2 linked regions of the Homo sapiens genome follow. The protein of the gene in region 1 purifies or fractionates together with the protein of each later gene. This does not show direct contact. Each region holds a gene or a part of one and is shown in the gene's direction. Other genes may lie near its edges.

The links.
Region 2: the proteins of NCOA5 (region 1) and GALC purify together in Homo sapiens (affinity purification with mass spectrometry; 3 studies listed by BioGRID and IntAct, with this or other methods). This does not show direct contact.

The regions. Positions count from the first base shown.
Region 1 is NC_000020.11:46,086,095-46,096,471, reverse strand, and holds the start of NCOA5 (nuclear receptor coactivator 5), read left to right. Parts: upstream 1-6,509; 5' UTR 6,510-6,655; intron 6,656-10,377. UniProt on the Homo sapiens protein: Nuclear receptor coregulator that can have both coactivator and corepressor functions.
Region 2 is NC_000014.9:87,989,199-87,998,820, reverse strand, and holds the start of GALC (galactocerebrosidase isoform a precursor), read left to right. Parts: upstream 1-5,638; 5' UTR 5,639-5,656; coding exon 5,657-5,851; intron 5,852-5,966; exon of another isoform or gene 5,967-6,490; coding exon of another isoform or gene 6,491-6,517; exon of another isoform or gene 6,518-7,724; intron 7,725-9,622. UniProt on the Homo sapiens protein: Hydrolyzes the galactose ester bonds of glycolipids such as galactosylceramide and galactosylsphingosine.

The DNA.
Region 1 (10,377 bases):
TAGGCAACATGATGAAACTGCGTCTCTACAAAAAATGCAAAAATTAGCCAGGACTAGTGGTGTGTGCCTGTGGTCCCAGCTACTTGAGAGGCTGAGATGGGAGGATCGCCTGCGCCCAGGAGGTTGAGGCTGCAGTGAGCCCTGATCATGTCATTGCATTCCAGCCTGGGTGACAGATGGAGACCCTGACTAAAAAACAAAAAAAAGAAAAGAAACAAGCACCTCAACCTCTAAATGTTTTTCAGTCTTTTTCTTTATGTGAATCTTTTAGAAACTAAGATCACTTCTAATGAAGAACCATCTATTTAAAATTCAATGATTCTTTCAGTGTAGAGTTGCCAGATAAAATATAGGACATCCAGTTACATTTTAATTTTAGAAAAACAATGACTAATTTTTTAGTATAAATATGTCCAAAATATTGCATGGGGCATACTTTTTAAAAAGCGTAATTTTTGTTTATTTCTTTCTTTTGAGACAGGTTCTCACTCTGTCACTCAGGCTGCAGTGCAGTTGCGCGATCATGGCTCACTGCAGCCCCAACCTCCCAGGCTCAAGCAATCCTCCCATCTCAGCCTCCTGAGTAGCTGGGACTACAGGTGCATACCACCATACCCAGCTAGTTTTTTCATGTTTTGTAGGCCAGGGGTCCCTCTATCTTGCTCAGGCTGGCCTCAAACTCCTGGCCTTAACCAGTTCTCCTGCCTTGGCCTCCCAAAGTGCTAGAATTAAATGAATGAGGCACCATAGCAGGCCCAAAATGTTTAGTTTATTTTACTCGTATTTATTAAATCTGACAACTCTATCTCAGTGTCATTCAGGGATCTTTGTAAACATTAGCTATAGTACACAAGATGTAAAGTGCTTTCCTTTCACACAAATGAAAGATATAACAGGAAAATGTGGTTGTAATTGAAAAATTATAGGACTTTGAATTAAGACTTGGGTTCTAAGTTCTGGTTTCGACTTGACTTCTTAGTAAATGTATGGCTTTAGATAAGTCACTTAACCTAAGTATCAGGTTCCTCACACTGTATAAAATGTTTGGGTTTATTTGTTTGTTTTTGAGCATCAACTATATTCCAGGAACTTTACATGCATGATTTCAGTTAATCCTTACAATGACCTCATGAGGAAGGTCTTATTATCCCTATTGTCAAGACAGGTACCTGTGGCTTGGTTGAAGCTCTGTGAAAGCACGGACCATCTCTTTCTTGTTCACTGCTGTGTCCTTTGTGTCTAGCATGGTAAACCTAGGAGGTACTCAATACATATCAAATGTATGAAAGAAGACCCAAACTCACATAGCTAAATTAAGGGACAGAGCCATGATTTGAACCCAAATCATTTTGATTTCAAAATCTTCATTTTGTTCTTTTAATTAAATTTTTATTGATGTATACTTTACATATAGTAAAATGCACAATTTTAAACCCATGACTCTATAGACGTTTACCTGTGTACATATTCCATGTAACCACTATGGGATCAAGATATAGAACATTTCCATCTTCCTGAAAGTTCCTTCAAGCTCCTCCCCAGTCTATGCCCCCAGAGTTAACCTCTATTCTGACTTCTATCACCAAAGCTGCCGCTCTTAAGTACTAGGTTTCTCCTCTCCTGGGTTGTGTCAGATGATATGCAAAGTATTCCTGAAAGTGTTTTTGCAAACTCAGGCTGCATCTGAGTGCTGTTGGCGTTTAGAATAGGTCTTCATGGGCCGGGCGCGGTGGCTTACGCCTGTAATCCCAGCGCTCTGGGAGGCCAAGGCGGGTGGATCACATGGTCAGGAGTTCCAGACCAGCCTGGCCAATATGGTGAAACCCTGTCTCTACTAAAACTACAAAAATTAGCAGGGCGTGGGGCGGGCGCCTGTACTCCCAGCTACTCGGGAGGCTGAGGCAGGAGAATTGCTTGAAACGTGGAGGTTGCAGTGAGCACAGATTGTGCCACTGCACTCCAGCCTGGGCCATAGAGCGAGACTCGGTCTCAAAAAAAAAAAAAAAAAATAGAATAGGTCTTTAGGCCAGCCGCTCATCACCAATACAAAAGTGAGATTCAGCAGGGTGCAGTGGCTCACACCTGTAATCCCAACACTTTGGGAGGCCGAGAGGGAGGATGACTTGAGCCCAGGAGTTTGAGACCAGCCTGGGCAACATGGTGAAACCCTGTCTCTACAAAAATTACCCAAAAAAGCCCGGCATGGTAGCACATGCCTGTAGTCCCAGCTACTCAGGAGGCAGAGGTGGGAGGATCACTTAAGCCCAGAAGGTCAAGGCTTGATCGCCTTGACAGAGTGAGACTGTCTCTAAAAAAATTAATTTTTAAAAATCAAAATTTTGAGGCTATATTATGCCCTGCATTTGTCAAAATGGAAGGGTTTTACTCAAGATTGCCTTCTGATCCTACTTTCTGATTCTCTGCAGTAATCTTGTCCTTAAAAAAAAAAAAAAAAAAAACTACATGTTTTCTTTATCATAGACCCTCTGGTTCTCTCTCCTGGGATATTCCTGAGCCCATTGCTTAGACACTTTTTAATCACCACTTCATTACCCAAAACGTATCTGGCTTCATCCTATAAAGCAGTCTGAAATACTAAGAAAAATACCAGATTAAAATAAAACCAAATTGATATCTCAAAAAAATTCCTCCACTATTGACTATGGTATTGAATTTACTCTTTCTTCTTTTTTTTTCTTCATTCAACAGGTATTTGCTGAGCACCAAATGCTGCCCCCTCCAGTTTGCTGTTTGAGTGGAATTGCTCATTGCCCTGTCTTGGCTGTCCTGTAAACCACAAGGCCTACTCATATGTTCTAGGAAACACACATCGTTCTTTAGTACTGGCCACACTTTAAACTATACCTTTCTTCCCTTACAGTAAGGGGTAACCCACTGTACACCAAATTTTAACAGCCAGTGAGCTTAAAGATCTATCTGACAGAAATCAGATGGCCTCCACTGTAGCAGATTTTCAATTTATCTCCTGGTCAAACTTTGGTGCTCACCTCTGAAGGGTTACAGGCTTTTACACCAATCAGGTACCCCCTGATTTGGAAGGGAACCTCTTATCCCAGAAGACAGTATCACTCGTGGTTACAATAGCATTTTGGGCATCAGGCCGCACAGGTTCAGTGAGTCTGGCCATGCCACATAATCTCTGTGGGACAAGCAAATTAACTGGCCTCAATTGTCTCATTTGTAAAATAGGAATATAGTACACATATTACAGTGTGTCCAGAATTGGTGGGTTCTTGGTCTCACTGACTTCAAGAATGAAGCCGCAGACCCTCATGGTGAGTGTTACAGTTCTTAAAGACGTCGTGTCCGGAGTTTGTTCCTTCTGATGTTCGCATGTGTTCGGAGTTTTTTCCTTCTGGGGGGTTCGTGGGCTCGCTGGCTCAGGAGTGAAGCTACAGGCCTTCCAGGTGAGTGTTACAGCTCTTAAGGTGGCACGTCTGGAGTTATTTGTTTCTCCCAGTGGGTTCGTGGTTTCAATGACTTCAGGAGTGAACCTGCAGACCTTCCCAGTGAGTGTTGCAGCTCATAAAAGCAGTGTGGACCCAAAAAGCAGTAGCAAGATTGATAGCAAAGAGCAGAACAACACAACTCCCACAGTGTGGAAGGCAACCCGAGCGGGATGCCACTGCTGGTTCAGGCAGCCTGCTTTTATTCGCTTATCTGGCCCCACCCACATCCTGCTGATTGGTCCATTTTACAGAGAGCCGATTGGTCTGTTTTACAGACAGCTGATTGGTCCGTTTTGACAGGGTGCTGATTGGGGCGTTTACAATCCCTGAGCTGGACACAAAAGTTCTCCACGTCCCCACTAGATTAGCTGGATACAGAGTGTCCATTGGTGTATTTACAAACCCTGAGCTAGACAGAGTGCTGATTGGTGCATTTACAAACCTTGAGCTAGATACAGAGTGCCAATTGGTGCATTCACAATCCCTTAGCTAGACATAAAGATTCTCCAAGTCCCCACTAGATACAGAGTGTGGATTGGTGCATCCACAAACCCTGAGCTAGACACAGGGTGCTGATTGGTGTGTTCACAAACCTTGAGCTAGACACAGAGTGCTGATTGGTGCACCCACAATCCCTTAGCTAGACACGAAGGTTCTCCAAGTCCCCACTAGACTCAGGAGCCCAGCTGGCCTCACTCAGTGGATCTTCCACTGGGCCGCAGGTGGAGCTGCCCGCCAGTCCCGCACCGTGCACCGGCACTCCTCAGCCCTTGGGCGGTCGATGGGACCAGGCACCTTGGAGCAGGGGGCTGCGCTCGTCAGGAAGGCTCAGGCCGCGCAGGAGCCCGAGGGAGGAGGGTTGGTGGGGCGGAGAGACTCGGGCATGGCTGGCTGCAGGTCCCGAGCCCTGCCCCACGGGGAGGCAGCTAAGGCCCGGTGAGAAATCGAGTGCAGCGCCGGTGGGCCAGCACTGCTGGGGGATCCGGCGCACCCTCCACAGCTGCTGGCCTGGGTGCTAAGTCTCTCACGCCTGGGGCCAGCAGGGCGGGCCGGCCGCTCCGAGTGTGGGGCCCGCCAGGCCCACGCCCACCTGGAACTCTAGCTGGCCCGCAAGCGCCGCGCGCAGCCCCGGTTCCCGCCCGTGCCTCTCCCTCCACACCTCCCCGAAAGCGGAGGGAGCCGGCTCCGGCCTCGGCCAGCCCAGAGAAGGACTTCCATGGTGCAGCGGCGGGCTGAAGGGCTCTTCAAGCGCGGCCAGAATGGGCGCCGAGGCCGAGGAGGCACCGAGAGTGAGCAAGGGCTGTGAGGGCTGCCAGCACGCTGTCACCTCTCAATAGGGTTGTGAGGATTAAATGAGATGATATGTGTAAAGGATTCAGCACATGGTAGGCACACAATAGATGTTACCTATTATGTAAAGCAAACATCTAAATAAGAAGTCACCAAGTCCTGAGCACCTGCCTCCCTACAAGAATCTTTCTTCATAAAATTAACTTGCTCCTCTATCAAAAATACTCATCAAACACTATATATTATCGTTTGTTTATTGCTCATATTCCCTAATAGGCCATGAGCTCCCTAAGCACAAGGATTTTGTCTACCTTACTCTCTACTCTCCACAAAATCAAGTGCATAAAAAACACTCATTAAACACTTAATACACAAGTCACTGAATACATCTTTTGGCTAAAGTCCACTACCCACTTGAGGTACTGCCACTCACCTCTAAACCAACATTTTTCCCTAAGCTTGGTTATCTTAATCATCTAATTAATATGATTCTTCTTAAATTTTCATAGTATTAGGATCTATATTGGAGGGAAAGGAATAAGAATGAACATTTGTTGGGTATCCATTATTTGACAGACTTTATGTCTTCATTTCTAATTTCATACAGTCTTATAAAGTGGGAATTGGAATAACCCACTTTGCCTGTGAGTAAACTAAAGTTCTAGTTACAACCATTGAGAATCCCTATTTCTTTCCATCACAGCGTTTATCTCAGTTTGCAATTACACACTCAAGTGTGATTATTCGTCTAATGCTTTCACCAGACTGTAATCTCAAAGATAGCAGAAAAGGGTCTGCATTTGCTCATAACAGCGCCTAACAAGCAGGCATATAATAAGTATAGGGCTACATAGTAGGTATGTAATAAACATTCAGTGAATAAATGAGTGGAGTGAGCATAGGGGTAGATGTCAAAGAAATCTGGCTTCTTGTAGTGTTTAAATTCCGCAGGCACCATTTTTTCTTAGTAGGCAATATTCGCAAGGAGAAGAACTAGACCCCATGGAGTCTGAGGCGTTTCCAACACTAATAAAAGAGTACCTGATTAATATAGCTATGGCTGTGATTAATAGAGTGCATTTACTATTGTGTGAGCAAATCCCATTCCCTGTGACAAATGTATTCTATACATGAAATGAACAGTACAACATTTTACAGGCTTCACGGTCAACAGTTACATTCCGGGAAATTTTTGACGTTGAACGAATATTCCAAGAATAAATAACTCAAGAAGAACCTGTGACTATATCTCCAGAAACCTTTTGCCGCTTGTCAGTGAAACTAATAGAGTACAGAGCCTATTTAAATGTAAATTTAAATACAACATTTTCTCCACCTTTCTGCTCTCTTTGTTCCTTGTGGTCCGGAGGTTACAGGACTATATATATTCTCCAATACACACGTGTATAGGGATTTGGGGTTTTTGCTTTCAGTTTTATGCAAGACTAAATCAAGGTATTTGGGGATTTGAATGTTCTGTTCCCACAGTTAGGGAGGAGGGAATGTGCTCTGAAAACAGAAAAAAAGTACTCTGGGGCGGGGGCTGAGGCGACCACCGTGGGGCCCATCCTCAGCCTAGGACGCTGTTGCTAGGCAACTCCCTGCGTTCTCAACTCCCGCCCGAGAGCCACTTCCCGGGCCCTCATTGCCAAGGAGATCGACGCCCCAACTCAGCCCTGCCGTAAACACGCGCGGTCTTGCGACAGTGCCGCGCCTGCCGCTACGTGCGCGCCCTCTGCCCCCATCTCCACTCTCCGCCCGGCCGCCATTGCCTCGTGCCCGCGCCGGTCGGTTGGTGGCGCCTTTGTCCTACGGCGGGCAGGTGGGCCGACGCGGAGGCGGCAGCGGCGGGCCTGAGGCGAAGGAGCGGCCGGGAGCCCGCCGCGCTGGTAGCGGTGAGTGCCGGGAAGCGCTGGCCGTCAGCCGAGGCGTGGGGCTGACGGGCAGGCCGTTGTGGGGGGCCTGGCCGGACGGGGAGGCTGAGGCGGGAAGGCCCACTCGACGCGCGGCCACGGTCTCGGCTCCTCTCCGGGTGCGCGCGGTGCTGCGCATGCCCGGTGCGGGGCGCGGCCGCCTCCGGCTCCCGTCAGGCCCAGGCCCGGCCGGCCGAGGCGGCCTACGGTTCTCTGTGGTGGACGCAGGTCGGCGGCGTCGCATCGCAGCCGCCTGTCTGTGCACGAACGGTCGGTCACTAGGAGTCCTCAAGGCTTCTCTGGTTGAGCCGCACATCCCGCACCCCCTGTCGAAACGGTGGAGTCGCTCGCCCGCGGGTCCTCAGCGAGTCAGTGGCGCAGTCGGGATTCGAACCGGGCCCAAGGCGTCCCGTGGCACCGGGCGTTCTCCAGGCGTGCAGCGCCGAGCGGTGTACTGAGCGCTGTCCCCCGCCACCGTCTCGCGGCCCCTGACCGCATTCTCGGGGTGTCTCCTTGTGGTGTGACACCCCACGCGTTTTGTAGGCGCGGACCTCGGGCCCAGAGAACGGGGAGAGGAACTGTTCCCGGGTTTACCACGTAGCTCAGCGCCAGCGTCCGATCCGGCCGGCTTTCCAAGCTCCCGGCGCGGGGCACTGTCCGCTCCCCGCCAGCGGGCGAGGGGCTTCTCTTAGGACGGCGTTGCACACGTTTCAGTCTCGCGTTGCACCTTTATGTCCGTGGACCATCTGTACTGCTATTTACCAAATGTTACATTTTTTAAAAAATTCAAACTGACTCTTTTTTTCTCCTTAAATATATTTAAGGCGGCAACTTCAATCACAAACCGGGTACTGGAAAGCCAGTTATTTTTCTAATGCTTATAAAAAAAATAAATATCTGTCTGTTGAAATAAACAGTGCGTCCTTGTTCCTCCTGAAATTATTCTGCGTTCCACACTTTGGGAAACGCTGCCCGAGGAGTAGCTGATTAATTGTGGTTCTTCTGGCTTGCACTCTGTGCACAGAATTTTTCCTGAGGCAAAGCAGATTCTATGAATGCCCTGGGCTCTTCAGGGATAATGTAACAGCTTTCTTGTAAACTGTTCTCTTTGTTGACTTAAAAGTGTTAGTCCCAGGGAACTGCAAGAACTGTGTTCACTCAGGTGCACCCGGTGTGCCTGAATTTTCTTACAGCGTTGTGATGTCGTAGCCCCCTGTTGGCTCATAAAAAGATGTTTCTACAAATGCTGGGGAAGCTTTTGTGAGTTTTGACAACTCTTAATTTAATGTTTTCTCTATGAGTCAGTCTGGGTGTGAAAACTAACTTTGTGTCTACTTTTTGCAACCAGTAAAGCCCATGCTTTGCATTGTGGATATTAGAAATCACTTGGCTATTTGTTAACATCCATTTCTTCCTTTATTGTGATTTCTTTGCCTTTCTTTGAGCTCATCTGTCACTCTTCAGATTGCCTTTGAAACCTCTGACACTTCTCTTAACCTAAAACTTAGAAACACTGATTTTCCTTGTAGAATGTCCCAGCGAATCCATATTGCAAGGCTCATTGGAAGGAGTTTTTCTAGATTCAGTTTGCTCAATGTTGCATACCTGTGAACACCACAAGTTTAAAGGAGGCATTGACAGATTAACTTACTTGTAAGTTAATAGTGTGTTCATAAGATCTGTTTATGTGAATGTAAGAGCAGATTTAATTTAAATCATTGACAGGAAAGTCCCATAAGTCAGTTCAGGCTTATTCAAGTTTTCTTCCCCTCCCCTCAAAGGCTGTGTAAAAAAATATATATATATGTATATGTATATATATGTGTGTGTGTGTATGTATCTCTCCCCCTGTTAAAAACATGTTTCTTTGGGGTTACCTTGGTATGATCACAATGTAGAATTTACGTAAGGCTAAGGTCATTTTCTTCACATTTCTGAGAATTTGATTTAAGCCCGGCGTCCGTTTCAGAACTTCAGCAAATGGAAACTCATCTACCAGTGCTTGAGAGCTAAGAAAAAACAACTTGTTTGTTTTGGTTTTGTTTTTGTTTTTTCTGAGACAGAGCTTCACTCTTGTTGCCCAGGCTGGAGTGCAGTGGTGCGATCTTGGCCCCCGGGTTCAAGCAATTCTCCTGCCTCAGTCTCCTAAGTAGCTGGGATTACAGGCGTGCGCCACCACGCCCGGCTAATTTTGTATATTTTTAGTGGAGACGGGGTTTCTCCATGTTGGTCAGGCTAGTCTCGAACTCCCAACCTCAGGTGATCTGCCCGCCTCTGCCTCCGAAAGTGCTGGGATTACAGGCATGAGCCACCGCGTCCAACCAGAATAAACAATTTTTGGAAAGACTTTCGTAGTCTGATGAGAAAAGATTTATTGGTTTGAAACTTCATTTTAAATAATCATTGCAAGCAGTCCATGTTTATGACCTGCAGATGGCAGTGCCTTTGTGTAATGTTTTACTACTGTGAGGATTAATAAAATTTAGTTGTGCTTTTAAGAATGGAAAATCTTCACAAGAAATATATTAAACTTTTTCTTCCCTTCAGTTTAGGTTGTTCTCTTGTTTTTGACTCCCCACGTGAAGAATGAAACGTCTATTCCTGAAGTCACTGTTACTCTTAGTGTAGTAATGATAATAACATACAGCCAGTAGTGCATATGGTAAATACTAAATCATTGCTCCTGCCCGTCATCTTATGAGACTGATAAACTAGTTTGATCTTTTTTATTTATAGGGAAATGATGACTCAAAGAGGTTAGATTTCTTGCCCCAGATCACATAATTAGTAGAACATATTCAAGACATCATTGGAGATAATTGATTTCAGGGTCAAGCAAAATTGGGAAATGTTGAGATATAGTGGTGTCCTTACTCCAAAACTTCTCAGAGGCATTTATGTGCTAAATATGTGCAATGTCAATATCTGAGAGAGGAAGTTATCATGATGCCTTTCTCCTGCTATCCTCTCATGAATATTTTGAAGTAATAGTGTTCCTCAGAACTGACTACTCTTTCTACTACGCTGTATTTCCTCTCTGTACCTTGTGGTTTATTAATGATTACTGCATATCTTTAAGACAGCTGCTTTTAAAGCTCAATATCAGCTTTTTTGTGCAAAAATAGTTGTCCTGTGAATAGCACATATATTTGTTTAGACCATTCTGCTTAAGCAGAGTTAAACTGTCAAAAAGTTAAAAGAGCAATGACTAACAGAATTATCCTTTATGTTACTCTCATTAATGAGAGTCATTAATGACAGGATCAGGGTAAAGCCACTGTCTCAAGCAGCAGTACATTAGAGAAATATGAAGTATATTGACAGCTAAATATATAATACCAGCATGCATGCTGCTTTTTAAATGGTGGTTTTGTTACCACCAGATATGAATATTTATGGGAATGGTCATCTTCATTCTTTATCCTTTCACTTAAAAAAAGAGATAATAGGTCATCTGGACCAATTTTATGTTAAGGAAATAGTTCACCTCATAAGAATCAGAACTTTTCCAGACATCCTATGTAAAGACCAGACAACTTTAGGCAAGGATCAGGGCAGCTTAAGTTGCATTAGAAAACAGAGTGTCTTGTCTTATACCTTTAGCTCTGTAAAGTATCTTAAGGCTGGGTACAGTGGCTCACACCTGTAATCCCAGCGTTTGGGGAGGCTGAAGTGGGAAGATCCCTTTTGATAGAAGTTTGAGA
Region 2 (9,622 bases), on another chromosome or scaffold:
CTGCTTGATCCCACTACTTTAGGTATCTGAGGCCACCTCTGATGGAGCCTCTATGCAGCTGCCTCCTCTGGACTCTGATATGGCTCTTGTGGGATTTCTCAACTGTGCATACATCTAGTTACTCTTCCAAGGTCAAATTTGCAGGTTCAAGAAACTGATTGAGAAAGCCTGGTCATTGTCAGAGCCTGTACTGATAAGGACAGTAAGAGAGAGGATCTGGCTCCTTAACTTCTGAAGGAGGCAGAATTCTCTTTCACACCAAGACTCTCACTATGAGGAATCAGCCACACACAACATAGATTTGGATGACTGTGGACAACAACCCAGCAAAAAGAAAAACTGAGACCAATACAAAGACAGGAATAATCTGTTTTTGCAGAATTAATTGTGGGGAAAGCAGTAAACTCAAAAGTTGTACGATAGTTATATAGGTATGTCATTTATGTTATTATTTATATAATAAGCACTTATATAACACATAGGATGTGTGGGTCACTCTTCTAAGTGCTATAAAAATATTAGCTTGTCCAATGTTCACATTAATGTATTGCCATCATTATCTCTATTTTATGGATGGGTAAACTGAAGCCCAAAGAAGTTACATAACTTAACCAAAATTACACTGCTGCTAAGCAATAGGAGAAAGATTTGAAGCCAGGAGACCTGGGGCTCCAGAGCCAGTATTCTAACTACTATACTACACTGCTCTTTGCTATAGAAGTTTTTATTTGTAGTTATACTTAAGAAAATGTTCAGTAAGCAATTTATAATTTATTTCATTAGGTGGATTCTGTCCTTTGACTTATTTTCATTTTGTTTATATAAAATCTTGAATGAATAGAGCCTTATAACATATTTTAGAGAGAAGTCACTCAGTAGGGCAGTATAACTAACAGTTGCCATCAAGAAACACGTCCAGAGTTGAAAGACCAGACAAATGGCAGATGTTGGATATATACTGAAAGGAATATAAGTCATTCTCCCATAAAGACACATGCAAGTGGATGGTCATTTCAGCACTATTTGCAATAGCAAAGCCATGGAATCAACCTAAATCTCCATCAGTGGTCTATTAATGGATAAAGAAAATGTGTTACATATACAACCTGGAATACCATGCAGCTATAAAAAAGAATGACAGGCCAGGTGCTGTGGCTCAGGCCTGTAATCCCAGCACTTTGGAAAGCCGAGGCGGGCAGATCACGAGGTCAGGAGTTCGAGACCAGCCTGACCAACATGGTGAAACCCCGTCTCTATTAAAAATACAAAAATTAGCCAGGTGTGGTGGCACACCCTGTAATCCCAGCTACTCAGGAGGCTGAGTCAGGAGAATCGCTTGAACCTGGGAGGCAGAGATTGCAGTGAGCCGAGATCGCACCACTGCACTCTAGCCTGGATGACAGAGCAAGACTCTGTCTCAAAAAAAAAAAAAAAAAAAAAAAAAAGAATGAGATCATGTTCTTTGTAGCAACATGAATGGAGCTGGAGGCCATTACCCTAAGAAGACTAACACAGGAATAGAAAACCAAATACTGCATATTCTCACTTATAAGACGGAGCTGAACATCGAGTACATATGGACACAAACAACAACAAAACAACAGGCACTGGGGCCGACTTAAGGGTGGAGGATGGGGGATGGGGAAGGATCAAAAAACTACCTATTGAGTACTATGCTTATTACCTGGGTAATGAAATAATCTGTACATCAACCCTAGGACATGCAATTTACCTTTGTAACAAACCTGCACATGCACCCTGAACCTAAAATAAAAGGTAAAAAATATAGCAGATGTTACAGGACAGTTCAAGAAAACACTCCACACTCTTATGTCCCAGGGGATTCCTACTTTAAGAAACGTTTCCAACTCCTTTTGTAAATAATTCTTTATTCGTATCCCCTTATGTGACCATTCAGTGATTTGTCTTTTAGTTCAATTCAACTAATATTTATTGAGTACTTAGCACAGTTTGGGCACTGTGCTTAAGACATACAAAGAAGAAATAAACTTGGCCTCTGCCCTGGAATTTCTGACAGCCTAATAGCAAAAACATGGAATCAACCTAAATGCCCATCAATGGTAGACTGAAGGGGAGGTGGACTGATTTATAAAAGTAAAGCCTTTTCCTGAAGTGAGACAACAGACTGCTATCATACCGTTTTATGATAGTCTTGGGGAAATAAAAAAAAAAATCCAGACTGCTATTAGAGTTTATCAATAAATTTTCATTAAAAGGCAAGATCTCTGATCCTTCTCAAGAGACTATTTGATTTTGATCACATTATTTTATTTAGAAAAAGGAGAGATTTGGGGTGGCTGAAGTATAGTTGTGATACTTAGAAACACCTGTTATTTAAGAGAAAAATCATCGTGTTTCCTTTGGCAGCACATTTACAAACACTGGAATGTTACAGAGATCAGTGTGGCCTCTGAGCAAGGATGACATGCAAATTCTTGAAGTGTTTCAGATTAAAAAGACAGAGAGAGAAACACTGTCATTACTTTTTAAACTCATTTAAAATCTGAAAACTGGGACCTTCCTTTCTTACCGTCTTATCTCACTGACCCTGATCCACAGACGCAAGGGAAGCTAAGCATATGATCACTCGTGGGGTAACTGTCATTTTTCTTTATCTCACATCTTGAGCACATTTGAGTGCCGTGCCCAGCACTCCAAGGATTTCTGTCAGCATGTATTTATTGGCCTTTTATTAGAAACTTTCTTACCTCATGTCTGCTCTCATGAATATAGATCAGAAATTAGAAACAAAAAATATTTATCTGGTAAGCAATTTCTTTGGTAACTGAACTAATAGGAACTACTGGGACTTCCTGGAAGTGAGGCTACCTTTTCCATTAGAGTTTATGCTTCCTCTTTTGTAGACTTCACACATTGCTCAAATATTTGTGGCGTGCATTCCAACTACAAGGTGCAATTGAGGGACGAGAAAAGGGAAAACTTAGTTGGGCAGACAGCTAAAGTTGGTCTTTGGTAAAATTCTTTTAAACAGAAAGACAGCCTGAAAAATCAAGCTACAGGCACACATAGAGTGGCCTGGGGAAAACTCAGGCAACAGCTGCCCTGATAAGAAAGGAAGGCCCAACATAGAAGCCTTTTGTTCTTTGTGTGATTAGCAGGTTCCCAGGAAAAAGTTTCTTCCCCTTTTCAGGCACATACATGGTGGGCTCTGTGGGAACTTGCATGGGGGTGGAGAGGGTGATTACCTAGAACCCACAGTTACACAAACAAGAGAAGCTGAACTTTATCCTTACCCAAGACATACCCACAGCTGCACAGATAAGGGGAGCTGCACAGATAGCTTTACAAGTAAGTTACACAAACAGCTACAGAGATGAGAGGAGTTTCTTATAAAAGCTTTTGGATTCAACTGTAAAAGTGGCAAAATGGCAAAGAAAGAAAGCTTTCTTCTTTCATATAATAAACTTTCTCTTCAACCTCACTCTGGTGTCCACACTCCTTAATTCTCTTGGTTGTGAGACAACAAGCTTGGATAACACCTCAGACAACGAGACCACTGACCACTGACCCGTTTCACAATGACGTACTACAGGATGGTGTATGCTGGGTATTCATACATCGTCATGCAACTTCCTAGTTTTATGTGTAAGGTAGTTTCCTCTGTCATCACCTTGGTATTTCCCATCTAGTCACGGTATTAAGTGGGTCTTATGCGCTTGTTAAGAGCTGGTAAGAGAAGCTTAACATTCACTTGATGGAATGGTTACTGTGGCTTGTATCCACAGGAGCTCCAGCTCATGCTTAAAATACTGTGTTAGAACAAATGGATCAGAGTGAATTCTGTAACAGTAAATCCACAGAACTGAAAATTACTGACTTGCATCATAAACTGGTTGCAGTGGCAAGGCAGAGAGTTCAGATTCGTGTTGTACTGGGGAAAGAAGAAACCAAAGAAAATAAGTGGTTCATACACAGGGGACTATTTAACTGATCCAAGCCAGAAGACTACTGAGGGTGAAAGGAGCATTATCAGTAATTATGTTTAGACAAAAGTTGTGACTGTCCTTAGTAAACCAGGATAGACGTAGAGTCAATTCAAAAAGAAAGAAAGAACAAACATATCTAATGTACATTAAGAACCCAGGGATATCGGGTTCTTAATGTGCATATTTATTGGATTGCCCAGAGCTTTGACCTTCAAGTATAATTGAGTTCTTGAAACTTAGATTTAGGTTTGTGGTTAAGGGGCAAAATAATCAGATTCCAAATAGGGTTCTGCAGACAAATCCCACAGGTCCTAAAGTCTCTGGGTCTTTTCCTTGCCATTGTGGTATCTCAGGGGCTTGTGTAGGCAATGATAACCAGTTCCATACTTCTGCTAAGAGAAATTTGGGGATCAGAAAATCTTTCTCTGCAGCTCTTCAGAGTCTCTTTAATTTACTTCAATAACAAGGAAATCAGAAATCTCAGGACAGTGCTGGATGTGGCAGAAATTCAGGGCAATTCACAACTTTCCTACCAATTTAGAGTTACCTGTCTGGAATCACTTCAACTGACAGTGGAAGATAGTTTATAAAATTGTAGGGGAGGCAAAATTTCACCTTCGTCCCTGTAGGGTCCCAGCATGGCCCTAGTATTAAATTGATTTAAGATATTAATAGACTGACAGGAGACAACCACACAAATGTTTATTTTACATAGCACGGGGGCCCTCATTAAAAAAAAAAAAGACCTAAAGCAGCAGTTAAGAGCCAATTGCTTATAGAGTGAAATGGACAAAAAATAGTAGTTGTGAAACATGATAAGGCGAAGGGGCTTGGGGTAAAGAAGCGACTAGAAAGATAGGGATTAACAAATTTTGTTTGGACAGATTTCCCTCGACTTCAACTTTCTGTCCTTGAAGATAACAATGTTATTTTATAGGGAAGACATCTTTCACATGGGAATTTCATCTCCTCCTTTTAAGACACATAATATCCATGACAGTGATCTTGCACCTGCTGTTTTTAAGTGCCTTTAATTTAAAATAGTCAATATGCCACAGCAGCATATTTTGAGGTGGTATATTATTAACTCCTTCAAGGCTAAAAGCTTTGAATATGCCGGGGTAGTTACCAGACTGGAGAACCTTCTCAGCTATTTGCCACTTGTGGAATGCATTCAAATGTACTGAGTGCTTATTAACTTTTCTCTCAGTCCCTCACTCTGCTGCTCTTCTCGCCTCATCTCACATAAGGGAAAACTCAGGCTCCAAAAGCAAAGTGATTCCACCAAGATGACAATGGAATCGGGACCTGGTGTCCAAGCCTGGTCCTCGCACGAGGTAGATACTCCCTGAGATGCTGGGGAAGAGCCATGGTAGGGCCACTCATGGCCCTCTTCCTTTGGCGGACCTTGGAATCCACCTTCCCTGCGTTAAAGTGCTCCACCAGGTGACGCCGGAAGAGAAGCCAGCAGTAAGTACATGTGAAATCCAGTAGCTGACCACAGACACGCGAGCGATAAGAAAAAGCTCGCTGCTTCTTTTCTCAACACTCCGCCAGCTGCGTCAGAGGCCCTTGACCCGCACTCAAAATGGCGGCGGCGGCGTCAGCATCAGCGGCCTCCTGCCCGTATCTATCGTGGCGGCGACGGGACCCGCCTCCCTGGGCGCCGGAGTCATGTGACCCACACAATGGCTGAGTGGCTACTCTCGGCTTCCTGGCAACGCCGAGCGAAAGCTATGACTGCGGCCGCGGGTTCGGCGGGCCGCGCCGCGGTGCCCTTGCTGCTGTGTGCGCTGCTGGCGCCCGGCGGCGCGTACGTGCTCGACGACTCCGACGGGCTGGGCCGGGAGTTCGACGGCATCGGCGCGGTCAGCGGCGGCGGGGTGAGCGGCAAGCTGCGGGGATACGCGGGGGGCGGCAAGAGCCCGCCCCGTGGGGCCAGCCCCACAAGCCCCCGCGGCGTTGCCCTGCGTTTCCACCGGCTCCACTCTCCGCCGCATTCCCCTAGGGTGCCAGTCAGCAGGCGGTTGGGGCGGGCCCGCTGCGGGGCTGGGGCGGGTGCTTTCTCGTTTAACACGAACCAGACAGGCAGTTAGGTTTGAACAAATGAGGATCCGGAGGTCCAGAGAGTATAGGTGCAGAGAGTAAAGTGACAGGTCTAAGTAGTGAAGTAGCCGGGGCTGGAACCCTCGTCCCAGGCAGTGGGGCACAGGCTGTCTTCATCGCGGAGATGGCAGTCGGGGAGCGTCGCTCCAGAAAGGGCCAGGGAGTGCGGGAGCGTCCGTGTGCGAAAGAGAACGCCCCAGTGGGATGCTTTGGCTGTGTCTCTCCCTTTTGGAGGAGTTGGTGGGTGGTGGAGTCGTTAAGTCCCGTGCAGTTGTTAGTGCAGGGTAAGAATGGGCTCCTCCAGAGAGGGTAGCGCCGAATAGGATTTCGTTTGGAGGCAGGACTGGTGCCTCAAGGTCTCTTTAAAAGGAAGATAAGCGAGCGGCCTGAAACTACCGGGTACTCCCTCTGGGCCCATGGGCTTCATGGTGGCCGACCTTTGGGTGAGAAGGTTTTTGTTTTTTGGTTTTGTATCCGAAATTACATCTAGGGCTAATGTTTCTTGAAAATGTTAAGGTTGAACTCGGATTTTTGGGGTTGAGTTGGATGGAGCTTGCATCCTTACATTCAACTCAGAACAAGCTTGAATGCCTGCTGCAAGGATGACCTGGTCTGTAGTGTGACCACAAGATATAACCTTCTGCTAGGGGAAATTTTTTTCCCCCTGGAGTTAGCTGATCCTTTTTGATTTTTATGTTTTCATTCCCTAATTTGCAATCTCTCCAGCCGTGCTGATGTGTATTTCAGGGGAAACCTGTGGGCCGATGAGTTAATGCATTTATTCTTTGCTACTACTATTCTCCTTTTTATGTTTTTGGGCTAAACCTGAAACAGCCAATATTTCATGGAGTGAGGCCCCATCTTTTTTATAGCTTTACTTGTGATACTATATCTAGGGTAAGAGCTTACCGAAAAATGGAAGTCTTTGTTTCCATTAGGTTTATTAAGCCCAGTTTAAAATTACTAAGATGAGAAGAATCATTTCGTAATTCAAAGTAGGAAACTCCTACCTAATCTGATAGAATATACAATTATTAGTATCCCTATATAGTTCATTACTCCTCATAGGAACTCACTAAATAATGAAAATTCTTGCAACATTATATTTGCATACCACTTTAAACTTCTTTGTGGAGTCCTTGGTTCCTAGCCCAGGTTGTGCCAGTAAGTGTTTAGAGTGCTGTCATTTAATCTTCATGTCAGAGAGGGAAAGCGGTATGGTACAGTAAGTAGTTAAGAATGTAGGGCCGGGCACGGTGGCTCACGCCTGTAATCCCAGCACTTCGGGCTTCCGAGGCGGGCGGATCACGAGGTCAGGAGATCAAGACTATCCTGGCTAACACGGTGAAACCCCGTCTCTACTAAAAATACAAAAAATTAGCCAGTCTTGGTAGCACGCGCCTGTAGTCCCAGCTACTCGGGAGGCTGAGGCAGGAGAATCGCTTGAACCCGGGAGGCGGAGGTTGCAGTGAGCCGGGATCACACCACTGCACTCCAGCCTGGGCGACAGAGTGAGACTCCGTTCAAAACACAAACAAACAAAAAAACCCAAAAACCAAACCAAAGCGAAACAAAACAAAAAGAATGTAGACTAAAGAGAAGATTGCCAAGAGTGTCTTCTGGGTTCTGCCACTTCACTGTGTGGCCTTGGTGGGTTATCTATTATAACTCCTCTCTGCCTCACTTTCTTTTTTTGGGATACAGTTATACCTGCATGGTAGGAGCGCCGTGAGGATAGACCTAAAGTACTTAGGATGATGTCTTGCACATTACTAATTTTGGTTAATAACCATTTTCAGGGATTAGGGAGGAGGAAGTTATTTCAAGGCCACTGAATGATGAAATGTCCCCAAGGCTTTTTCCTGGGCCTGTAAACAGTTCCAGGCCTCATTCAGGCAGTGTGGTTAGTAATCCCGTGATTTGCTATTGCTAGATGGTGCATTTTAACATTTGGTTATATTGCCTTTGACTTATGCTGTTGTGTTAGGTGTGGCTATAGGTTTGCAATAACATGATTGGTGTGTTTGCCTAAAGCCGATACTTTCTCTGTTAAATGTGGGAGTGCATAGAGGGCAAAAGAAACCCTAGACAGCAAAACGCACAGTATTAATGGCGTAGCGTAGGACAGGAAGCATTGTTTACCTAGGGTCAAGGATATATTAGTGTGCCTATACAGTGTTCATTTAAAGAGTGCCTATTTTAATATTGGAGCCTCTGCTAGGTTGTAAGCTCTTTGAGAAATATGTATTTTAAAAAATTTGTGTATATAACACTTGCCTTTATTGAGAACTTACTATGTGCCAGGTAATGTGCCAAGTCCTTTACATACATCTAATTTTAGTCTTACAGCAGTTGAATGAGTAAGATAGCCCACTTTACAATAATTTGCCTATGATTACATAGCTTATTAATGATGAAATCAGGATACAAACTCCATTTGACTCAAAGACTCCTATTTATGTTGCCAGTACCAGTGCAACAAAAGACCCATAAAATATTTAATAAGTGTTTATTGAATAACAAAGAATGAGGATACAAACTTGAATAAGATACAGTCCATGTCCTTAAGGAACTAAGAGGTGAGTCAGAAAAATAAAGGAGTGCCGGGGTTCAAAGTGTTGTAATAAAGATATGGACCTGGTGCCAAAGGAGAGGCGCTTACATCAAATCAGTGAGCAGGGCCAGAAGGCATCCTTCCTTCAAATTCCAGAGGTGGAATTTGAGCTGAAAGGTGAATTGGAGTTGTCCAAGAGAGGATGTGGGGTGCATTCCAGGCATAAGAATAGAAAACGTTGTTTGATACATCTAGGTAGAAGGTGTGAGAGTGATAAGGGATAAAGTATCAGGGTTAGGAGCCAAATAATTAAGGGATTTGGGTGCAAAATTGAGCGATTTGAACTTTATCCTGAAAGCTTTTGGGAAAGGGACGGTCTTAGCATGTTTACATGGAAGAGTTTCGTGATTACATTTGTATTTTGGGAAGGTTACTCTCGTAAGTAGCATGGAAGATAGAATACAGGGAGAGGCAGAAGGGATGTCCTGAGACCACTTATACTGTTCTCATAAGTGAGGAGGGCCTGGGTAAGTCAGTGGGGTTGAAGAGTAGAGGAGGGATTTGAGAGCTATTGAGGATATCTTGGTGACTGAGGGTACATGGGAAGTTTGGACAAAAGGTGGCCCAAGTTTATGGTTTCGGCAAGTGTTGGTTACTGAGACAGCAAGTTCAGGAAAAGGAGCAGATACATGCAAAAGTGCTATGTTTGGTTTGGGATATATTGAGGTAGATGGAAAGAGTGGCTAGAGAGCAGCTCCATGGGTGTTTGCCTCACTGGTAGGGACTGGGGATGTTTTGGGTGTGACAGAGTAGATATGGGCACTTACCAGAATGTCAGTGGTAGCATATATGAGAATATAAAATAGAAAGTTGAACCCCATAAAAGTATTTTGTCCCAACCATCATACATACACCTGGCAAAGTGTCAGCAGTTTGAACCTAGGACTGTCTGGTTTACAAGCCTGAGGCTACTGTTTCATGCCAAAAACCGGCC